Linked DNA regions of Homo sapiens: all the other regions are linked to region 2. Evidence: fine-mapped expression QTL. A gene starts in region 2. Each other region holds a variant in brackets. All regions are shown on one strand. Distances are from middle to middle. Region 1 has its middle 37 kb from the start of SFTPD. Region 2 holds the start of SFTPD (surfactant protein D). Region 3 has its middle 50 kb from the start of SFTPD. Region 4 has its middle 20 kb from the start of SFTPD.

Evidence for each region.
Region 1: its variant is fine-mapped to the expression of SFTPD in atrial appendage (GTEx, PIP above 0.99).
Region 3: its variant is fine-mapped to the expression of SFTPD in anterior cingulate cortex (GTEx, PIP above 0.99). The same link has a PIP of 0.9 or more in amygdala and whole blood.
Region 4: its variant is fine-mapped to the expression of SFTPD in whole blood (TOPMed, PIP above 0.99). The same link has a PIP of 0.9 or more in blood mononuclear cells and monocytes.

What each region holds. Positions count from the first base shown.
Region 1 is chr10:79,985,256-79,987,944 of GRCh38, forward strand. No RefSeq gene overlaps it. Among named protein-coding and RNA genes, the nearest start is that of SFTPD, 37 kb to the left of the region's middle. The variant A/G (reference allele first, on the strand shown) is at 1,380.
Region 2 is chr10:79,947,492-79,950,180 of GRCh38, forward strand. SFTPD (surfactant protein D) reads right to left here and starts at 1,614. Exons shown (of 8, transcript NM_003019.5): 1 at 1,575-1,614.
Region 3 is chr10:79,997,715-80,000,403 of GRCh38, forward strand. No RefSeq gene overlaps it. Among named protein-coding and RNA genes, the nearest start is that of SFTPD, 50 kb to the left of the region's middle. The variant T/C (reference allele first, on the strand shown) is at 1,248.
Region 4 is chr10:79,967,424-79,970,112 of GRCh38, forward strand. It overlaps a transcript of SFTPD not described here. Among named protein-coding and RNA genes, the nearest start is that of SFTPD, 20 kb to the left of the region's middle. The variant G/A (reference allele first, on the strand shown) is at 1,691.

The DNA.
Region 1 (2,689 bases), 38 kb after region 2:
TAAATGTGAATTTCAGATAAAATAATAACTTTTAAGAATAAGTATGTGTCATGCAATGTTTTTAGTATAAGTATGTCCCAAATATTGTATAACCACACAAATTATTTGTTATTTATCTGAAATTCAAATTTCACTGGGCATCCTATGAAAAGTCTGGCAATTTTATCTGTCCACATTTAGGAAGGTGCAGTGTGTTTCAGAGTAGCTGGAGTGATGCAAGGAGGAAAGGCAGAGTGGGCCGGATGGGGCTGAGAGGCATGCAGGAGGCAGTTCATAAAAGACCTATTCTATGTTAAGGGATTTGGATTTTATCCTGAAATTAATGATGAGCCCTTGGAGAGCTTTAGCCACAGGGATGTGAAACTGTAGCGATATCAGTGTCAGGCATGATGAAATGAGTGTTAGTTTCTATGGCTGAATAGCAAATTACTCCAAATTTAGAGTCTTAAAACAGTAAACATTTATTATCTCACAGTTTCTGTGTCTCAGGAATTCAGAGGCAACTTAGCTGGGTGGTTCTGGCTGAGGTTTCTCATGAGGTTGTAGACAAGATGATGACCAGAGTGGCAGTTATCTAAAGGATACACTGGAGCTGGAGAATTTGCTTCTAAGGTGACTCACTCTAATGGTTGGGAAGGCACTGCTGGCTGTCAGCAGGAGAGCTCAGTTCCTTGCCACAGGGACCCACCACAAGACAACTTGAGCCTCCTCACAACATGATAGCTGCCTTAGTGATCCGAGACAGCAAAGTGACCTTAACTTTGGAAGTCATATGCCACCTTGTCATTCCCATATATCCTAGTGCTAACACAGCTCAGCCCTGCTCAGTGCAGAAGGGTCCTACACAACGATGTACATACAAGGAGGTGGGGATCATGGGTCATCTTGGAGGCTGCTTATCTGGGATGGGAGGCTTACATGGTGATGCCTGTGACCTTGGAAGTGGAGGAGAATGATGGGCGTACAGAAGAGTGGAGAAAGGCTGGGAGGAATAGAGATGTGGCAGAGGAGGGGAGGCAAAGAAAAAAGAAAGGGGGAAGGGATGTTGGAGCAGATTGTAGTCTGTCTGCAGCAAAGAGCATCACCAAAGCCATTCTAAGGGAACTAGATCCACCTCCTTCTCTCCTGGGCATGCCCCAAAGATGGTTGTGGCCTCCAGAGAGGACCCCAAAAGAAAGCACAAAAACTAGACAGTGGGAGGGCAGTACCCAAAAGCCCTGAGTTTCTGAGCAAAATATTGAAAGTTTCTATGGTGAAATAGGAAGGTAACACGCTTAGGAAGAAAAAAGTGGTAATGATTCAAGGAAACATAATCACACACAGTTTCAGTCTTAATGGACAGGGGAGGACCCATAAAAGTAATCTATCATCTATCAATT[A/G]TATCAACTGTCTATCTGTGATACCCTACCCTGTTTTAACCTGAGTGACTCTCTCTTAGCTGAGAGAGCCGGACAGACTCCATTTTAGCTTCTTCACTTGCAGCCCCCTTATCCCCCCTCCCTTAGGGGAATAACTAGTGCAAGCTGACTCCAAGCACATCCAGGAATGCACTTACTGATAAGATATTGAGGCAAGCTGTACCAGCAGCTGCTGGGGATGTGCTCAGTGGATGGTACCCAAGCCCCTGCATTTATCTCTTTGTGATAGTTTAAGCCCCTGCACCTGGAACTGTTTATATTTCTGTAACTATCTCTGTAACCATTAATTTTTTTAAACTTTTTGCCTGTTCTGCTTCCGTAAAAATTGCTTCAGCTAGGCTCCCCATCCCCTATTTAGATCACAGTATAAAAAGAAATCTAGCCCCTTCTTCAGGGCCGAGAGAATTTTGAGCTCTAGCCATCTCTCGGTTGCCGGCAGTAAAAGGACACCTGAATTAAAAAAAAGAAAAAAAGAAAAAGAAACTTATGGGATACCAAGCAGATTTAACCCAAATAAGACTACCTCAAGATATTTAATAATCAGATTTCCAAATGTCAAAGATGAAGAAAGGATCCTAAAAGCAGCAAGATATAAGAAAAAGATAACATATAAAGGCGCAACACATCTGGCAGTAGATTTCTCAGTGGAAACCTTACAGGCCAAGAGAGAGTGGCATTATATATGTAAAGTGCTGGAGGAAAAACTTGTATTCTACAATATTAAATCCAGTGAAAATATCCTTCAAACATGAAGGAGAAATACTTTCCCAGACAAATAAAATCTTAGGGATTTTATCAACACCAGACTTATCCTACAGGAAATGTTAAAGGGAGTTCTTCGATCTGAAAAAAGAAAGGATGTTAACAAGCAATAAGACATCTGGCTGGGCGCAGTGGCTCACGCCTATAATCACAGCCCTTTGGGAGGCTGAGGCGGGTGGATCACAAGGTCAGGAGTTCAAGGCCAGCCGGGTGAAAGTCCGTCTCTACTAAAACTACAAAAATTAGCCAGGTGTGGTGGCAGGCAACTGTAATCCCATCTACTCATGAGGCTGAGTCAGGAGAATCACTTGAACCCAGGAGGCAAAGGTTCCAGTGAGCTGAGATCATGCCACTGCATTACAGCTTGGGTGACAGAACAAGACTCCATCTCAAAAAAAAAGAAAAGAAAAAGAATCTGAAGATACAAAACTCACTGGTAACAATAAGTACATAGATAAATATAGAATATTATAACACTGTAATTGTAGTGTGTAAAATACTAATGCCTT
Region 2 (2,689 bases):
CCAGCCTGGCCAACATGGCAAAACCCCATCTCTACTAAAAGTATAAAAAATTAGCCAGATGTGGTGGTGCGTGCTGTAATCCCAGCTACTCGGGAGGCTGAGGCAGGAGAATCTCTTGAACCCGGGAGGTGGAGGGTGCAGTGAGCCGAGATCGTGCCACTGCACTCCAGCCTGGGCAAGAGAGTGAGACTCCATCTCAGAAAAAAAAAGAAGTCTTATATGGAAAGAGGACATGCCAGGTAGGCTCAGTCAGGCAGAAAGCTAGTGTTGTGGGTAAGCAAGAGCAACTACCCAACAGGGCACCCATTTACTATCTAAGATGGTCAGGAACTGAGACCAGGATAAGAGCAGGACCTGGGACATTAACTGTTTTGGGTATCTTTTCTCTCAATGAGAAACCGTAAAGTTATGAGAGTGAAAAGAGCTGATCAGATTCGCAGAGGCTAGGAACAAAGCCAGAGGGACTTGTGCAAAGAAAGGGGTCACCAGGCCAACTGGGGTGGTGGCAAGTGGGGGGCTTCCTGCCCAGAGGAGTGCCTTCTTCTTTGACTGCTGGTGATTCTGGGCTGTGGATGACCCCTATTTCTCACTAGCCTCTTTCAATTTTGAAATCACCACTTCCTTGGGTATCCTGGTAGTCTCTAGAAACACCTGGGTGAGCTCACTGCCAGCAGCGGCTACCTTGTTACACCTGTTCTGGCAGAGGCTCAATCATGAGCAGCAAGGGCCAGACCCAGGCCAGAGCAAGGGCATTGTTCTGTGCCCCGCAGCTCCCTCACCCCTCAGGCCCTGTGTCTGATTCTGGGGAAGAATGAAAGGCAATAGGCATTCTGTCTACAGGCTCAAGATGGCACAGAAGGCACCAGCAGCCACTGTGGCTTGAAGGACACTTGGAGAGGGCAGACCCGGGTTTTCAGGCCCAGGATTCAGATGAGGCATCTTAGCTGGGGCAGCAGATGGAGTGGGCAGAGTTGTGGTCCCCCTCAACCCCTGCAGTGCCCAGTTTATGCTAAGCTTTCAGAGTACAATTTCATTGAAAAGGCCATCTCCTCTGAACATGGATTGGAAAATCAGAGACCTACTCCAGTAAGTATATTTTTTAAAGTAAAGACCTGAAGCTATGAGAAAAACAGGCTTGCCCTGCTTTTCCACAGGCTGTTGGCACCAGGATGGGTTTAGAACCCCAGCCTGTGAGTGCCTGGGTTTGTCTCTCTTCCACTGTCCTTTCTGAAGAAATCAGTGCAGAAAAGAGCCTAGAGATAAATTAGCATTGCATTTTTCCACCTGAAGCTTCCACACTGTGGCATCCCAGGTCTAGATAGTGTCACACCCACTCTTCCACCCTGTGCACCCCCAGCTCAGAAAGCAAATCCTCCCCTGGGCTGAGGCCACTGAATAAGGGGCAGAAGAGCACCATAAGACCTCCTGTGCTCCCCACCTCCTGCGCCCATGCCTCCTAGACCAGAACAGCTACACAGACCCTCCACACCAATAGGTTGAATTGCCCAGGTCGGCAGAGGGATATTTATAGGATGTGGAGAAAATAAAAAGAAGGCAAGAACAGAGACACTTACAGGTTTCTTTTTGTTAGGCCCCAGGAGCTCCAAGCAAACTAGCCTTTGCTTGGCAGGCACTCACTATTTATGCCTGCCCTGTACCCTGAGCTGCCCAGCCCCAAAAACTCCCTTCAAGAAGTGGGGCAATTTTCTTCTTTATTGACTCACTCACTCTTATCCCCACCTGCGTTCTGGAAACCTGCCACTGATATTCACAATACTATGCACATCCATCACTATAGTTTGCAGAACACTATCAGGCCTTGAACTCATCTGCACCTTTCTCACTGCAGCTCTGTGAATTAAGTGGCATCATCAGTGTCTGTATTTTATAGATGTCTAGAAATCAGGAGTCCAGAGACCAGCAGGTTGCACAATGACCTACAGCGATTGCAAAAGGAACTCACAACTGCAGATCTTAAGAGCCAAGACCTGCTGTGTCCACTTCTCCTCTTCCTTTGTCTCAACAGCACTGCCCAGATATTGGGAAAGAGCTGAGAGCTGCTTGGAATACCTGGGCAGGGGTGGGGCAGGTAGAGTGGCTGCAGAGGCAGCAGCATGTGGGGGCAGCAGCTAGGGAGCTGCCACCTGGAAAGAGTTGCTCTTTTGCATGCTGCTCTAGGCCTCAGAGAGCCCCTGCCTTGCTTGTCTTTTGTGGGATGGATTTCCCTTAGCAGACCTCTGCCTTGCCTTGTTCAGGCTTGTTCTCCCTGCCATCTTAGCTGGTGTTTGTCTTGTGCACTGTTCTTGTAACTAGTTAGGACCCCTGAGCTGATGCTACTTTTATCCAATCTTTTAGTCTGTATGTATTTTTTTTTTTTTTGAGACAGTCTCACTCTGTCACCCAGGCTAGAGTGCCATAATGCATTTATAGCTCACTGCAGCCTCAAACTCCTGGGCTCAAGTGATTGTCCTGCCTCAGCCTCTTTACAGGTGAGCATGATCACACCTGGCTAATTTCTCTTTTTAATTTTTTACAGAGATGGGGTCTCACTCTGTTGCCCACGCTGGTCTCAAACTCCTGGTCTCAAGCAATTCTCCTGCCTCAGCCTACCGAAGTTCTGAGATTACAAGTGTAAGCCATCATACCCAGCACCAATCTGTATCTTTTAAGTGGAACATTTACTCCATTT
Region 3 (2,689 bases), 50 kb after region 2:
TCCAAAATGTACTCAGTCTTACTAGTTCTCTCCATCTGCACAGCCAGCACCCTCTCTATCCCAAGATACCATCACCCTACAAATTAGCCTCACTCTACTCATGTTTTCCCAACACACATTGGTATCACATATAGATAAACAAGAAATGTGGCAAAATATCAATACCATTTTACCAGGTGATTAATGCTATTACACTGCTTCATAATTCTTTTCATTTTTTATATTATCTGTAAAAATGCAAATATTATGATACTTTTATTATGTGAGAAATTTCATACTTTTTATTTTGGTTGACTACCACTCTTTTCTCTTTGATATCATTCAATTATTTGCCTCTCTATTAAAAAAAAAACTAGTACCTACATCCATCTATATTTTTTCTTTTTTCTTTTCTTTTCTTTTTTTTTTGAGATGGAGTCTCGCTGTGTCACCCAGTCTGGAGTTCAGTGGTGTGATCTTGGCTCACTGCAACATCTGCCTCCCGGGTTCCAGCGATTATCCTGCCTCAGCCTCCTGAGTACCTGGGATTACAGGCATATGCCACCATGCCCAGTTAAATTTTATATTTTTAGTACAGACAAGGTTTCATCGTGCTGGCAAGGATGGTTTCGAGCTCCTGACCTCAGGTTATCCACCCATCTTGGCCTCCCAAAGTGCTGGGATTACATGTGTGAGCCACTGCGCCCAGCCTCATCTATATTTTCCAGGAAATTTACAAAGCTCTAAATTTGCCAGGCGTGGTGGCTCACACCTGTAATCCCAGCACTTTGGGAGGCTGAGGCAGGTAGATTGCCTGAGCTGAGGAGTTCGAGACCAGCCTAGGCAACACGGTGAAACCCTATCTCTACTAAAACACAAAAAATTAGCCGGGCGTGGTGGCATGCGTCTGTAGTCCCAGCTACTTGGGAGGCTGAGGCAGGAGAATTGCTTGAATCTGGGAGGCAGAGGTTGCAGTAAGCCGAGATCGCCCCACTGCATTCCAGCCTGTGCAACACAGGGAGACTCTGTCTCAAAAAAAAAAAAAAAACAAAAACAAAAACCTCTAAACTTACATGACTTACACACACATGACAATGCAGTTGTTTGACCAGTTCTCTGGTCGTAAAATTAGGGTAAGGGTGCTGTGCATATTTCTCATTAAGTCTGCACAATTCTTCCTCAGGAAATTTATCTTTGTGTTTTGTTTTTCCTCTTATTTTCTGTTCCCCTTACTTTATAACGCCATCCTCTTCAGCAATGGAACCTAA[T/C]AGAAAGATGGAGATAGATAAGCATTGAAGACTGTGGCTCACACTTGTAATCCTAGTACCTGTAATCCCAGCTGAGGCAGGAAAGTCACCTGAGGCCAGGATTTCGAGACCAGTCTGGGCAATATAGTGAGACTCCATTTCTATTTAAAAAAAAGAAAAGAAAAAAAGAGTACTGGTAGTATTCAGAGAGAAAATGATTAATCACAACAATGTTGGTACAACTGACTACCTGTTTATAGTGTAGAATTAGGGCCTCACAGCCATTCACAATAATAATATTACAAATGGAAGCAGGGGTTGGCAAACTATTACAAATGGGCCCTATCCAGCCAGTTTCAGTTTTTATAAATAATTTTCTTGGGACACTAGCCACACCCATTTATTTACCTATTGTCTATGGCTGCTTTTAAGCCGAAATGACAGAGCTGAGTACTTGAAACTCCACTTTGCCCAATGCCCAAAATGTTTACTTTTTGTTGTTTGTAGGGAAAGTTTGCCAAGCCCTGGATTACAGAATTTATCTTTAAAATTAGGAGTAAATAAATGAGAATACTGTATAATTCCATTAATATTTTATATAAAACAGACAAAACTAATCTTTGCTGTGGTTAATTTATTTTATTTTATTTTGAGATGGAGTCTTACTCTGTCACCCAGGCTGGAGTGCAGTGGCACAATCTCGGCTCACTGCAACCTCCGCCTCCCGAGTTTAAGCGATTCTCCTGCCTCAGCTTCCCCAGTAGCTGGGATTACAGGCATGTGCTGCCATGCACAGCTAAATTTTTTGTGTGTTTTTAGTAGAGACTGGGTTTTACCATGTTGGCCAGCCTGGTCTTGAACTCCTGACCTCAAGTGATCCACCCGCCTCGGCCTCCCAAAGTGCTGGGATTACAGGCGTGAGCCACCATGCCCAGCTATGCTGTGGTTAAAAGTAAGGATATGAGCTACTGGGGGAAGGGTATCAGTGCCTTAAAGGGAACCAAAAGTAGGCTCCTGAAGTCAGGTAATATTATCTTTCTTTATCTGAATGTTTGTTCCATGAGTTTGGTTGTTTTGTGACAATTTATTAAACTGACTATGTATGATACATGGTCTTTTGGGTATGTGCACTATATTTCAATAAAGTTTATTTTCAATAGCCTACATGTCTTATCTAACCTGTACTCCTCCTGCCTTTCCTCTCTGACATCATTTTCTACTGTCCACCCCTCCGCCTCACATAGGCACCATCTAGTGGTATTGGCCTCCTTGCTTTTTCTTAAACATCTCAGGCTCCCTCTCACCTCAAGGCATTCCAACCTCTGCCTGCAAAGCTTCCTGACCTCTCATGATCCCCATATCCCTTGAATCACTCCTTCATCCCCCTCTCAGCCTTTGCCAGGTGGCCTTTTCAGATAGGCTTACTTTCATCTACCTATTTAAAGCTGCAATTCTCCAAAAAT
Region 4 (2,689 bases), 20 kb after region 2:
ACTTTCTTCACAGAATTGGAAAAAACTACTTTAAAGTTCATATGGAACCAAAAAAGAGCCCGCATCGCCAAGTCAATCCTAAGCCAAAAGAACAAAGCTGGAGGCATCACACTACCTGACTTCAAATTATACTACAAGGCTACAGTAACCAAAACAGCATGGTACTGGTACCAAAACAGAGATATAGATCAATGGAACAGAACAGAGCCCTCAGAAATAATGCCGCATATCTACAACTATCTGATCTTTATTTTTCTTATTAATATAAGAAGACAGGAATGTCAGGCCTCTGAGCCCAGGCCTGCACGTATACATCCAGATGGCCTGAAGTAACTGAAGAATCACAAAAGAAGTGAAAATGGCCTGTTCCTGCCTTAACTGATGACATTACATTGTGAAATTCCTTCTCCTGGCTCAGAAGCTCCCCCAATGAGCACCTTGTGACCCCCGCCCCTGCCTGCCAGAGAACAACCCCCTTTGACTGTAATTTTCCACTACCTACCCAAATCCTATAAAACAGCCCCACCCCTATCTCCCTTCACTGACTCTCTTTTCTGACTCAGCCCACCTGCGCCCAGGTGAAATAAACAGCCTTATTGCTCAGAAAAAAAAAAAAAAGTTATTGATACATAATAGTTGTACATATTTATGGAGTATATGTGATATCTTGACTCATGCATACAATATATAATGGTCAAGTCAGGATAATCGGGATATCCATAACCTCAAATAGTTATGATTTCCCTTTGTTGGGAATTTTTAAAAATAATTTCAACTTTTATTTTAGATTTAGGGTGTACCTGTGCAGGTTGTTACATGGGTATATTGTATGATGCTGAGGTTTACGGTACTATTATACCCACTTCCCAGGTAGTGAGCATGGTACCCAGTAGTTTTTCAACACTTTCCCCCTCCCCAGTGTCTATTGCTGCCATCTTTATGTCCATGAGTATCCAATGTTTACTCCTATTTACCAGTGAGAACATGCAGTATTTGGTTTTCTTTTGCTACATTAATTCTCTTAGGATAATGGCCTCCAGTTCTATCCATGTTGCTGCAAAGGACATGATTTTATTCTTTTTTATAGCTGTGTGGTATTCCATGATGTATGTATACCACAGTTTCATTATCCGGTCCACTGTTGATAGGCATCTAGGCTGATTTCATGTCTTTGCTATTGTGAATAGTGTTGCAATGAATATATGAATGCATGTGTCTTTTCAGTGGAATTATTTATTTTCTTTTTGATATATACCCAGTAATGAGACTGTGTCAAAAGTAGTTCTGGGTCAAAAAGTAGTTCTAAGTTCTTTGAAAAACATCCAGACTGCTTTTCACAATGGCTGAACTAATTTACATTCCCACCAACAGTGTGTAAGCATTCCCTTTTCTCTGCAGCCTTCCCGACATCATATTTTTTTTTCTTTTTCATGATAGTCGTTCTGACTGGTGTAAGATGGTATCTCATGGTTCTTATTTGCATTTATCTGATGATTAGTGATATTGAGCATTTTTTCATATGTTTTTTTGGCCACACTTATTTTGAAAAGTGTTTGCTCATGTCCTTTGCCCACTTTTTAATGGGGTTGTTTTTTGCCTGTTAATTTAAGTTCCTTATAAATTCTGGATATAAGGCCGGTCATGGTGGCTCATGCCTATAATTCCAGCACTTTGGGAGGCTGGGGTGGGC[G/A]GATCACCTGAGATCAGGAGTTCGAGACCGGCCTGACCAACATAGTGGAATGCAGTCTCCAATAAAAAATAAAAAATAAGGGCCAGGCATGGTGGCTCAAGCCTGTAATCCCAGCACTTTGGGAGGCCGAGGCCTGTGGATCACAAGGTCAGGAGTTAGAGACCAGCCTGACCAACATGGTGAAACCCTGTCTCTACTAAATATACAAAAATTAGCCTGGCATGGTGGCAGGCGCCTGTAATCCCAGCTACTTGAGAGACTGAGGCAGGGGAATCACTTGAAACTGAAAGTGGGAGGTTGCAGTGAGCTGAGATTGCATCACTGCACCCCAGCCTAGGGGAAAGAGCAAAACTCCGTCTCAAAAGAAAAAAAAAATCTGGATATTAGACCTTTATCAGATGCGTAGTTCGTGAATATTTTCATTTTCTCCACATCCTCAACAACACTTATTATCCTTTGTCTTTTTTTATAGTAGCCATTTTAAAAGGAGTGAAGTTGTATCTGATAGTAGTTTTAATTTCCATTTTCTCAATGATTACTGATATAGAATTTTTTTTATATACCTCTTGGCCTCTGTATGTCTTCTTTTGAGAAATGTCTGTTCAGATCATTTCACATTTTAAATCAGCCTATTGTTTTCTGGTTATGGAGTATTTGAGTTCCTTATATAGTAACCCTTTATCAGATGTAGAGTTTGCAAATATTTTCTCCCATTCTGTAGGTTCTTTTAACTCTGATGTTTGTTCTTTGTTATACAGAAGGCTTTTAATTTGAAGTAATCATATTTGTCTATTTTTGCTTTGATTGCCCTTGCTTTTGGGGTCACATCCAAAAAATAATTGCCCAGACCAATGTCATGGACTGTTCCCCGTGTTTTCTTCTAGTAGTTTTTTCAGGTCCTATATTTACTCTTTAACTCATTTTCAGTTGATTTTAGTGTATGGTATGAAATAAGTTTCTAATTTCAATCTTCTGCATGTGGACCTCCAGTTTTCCCAA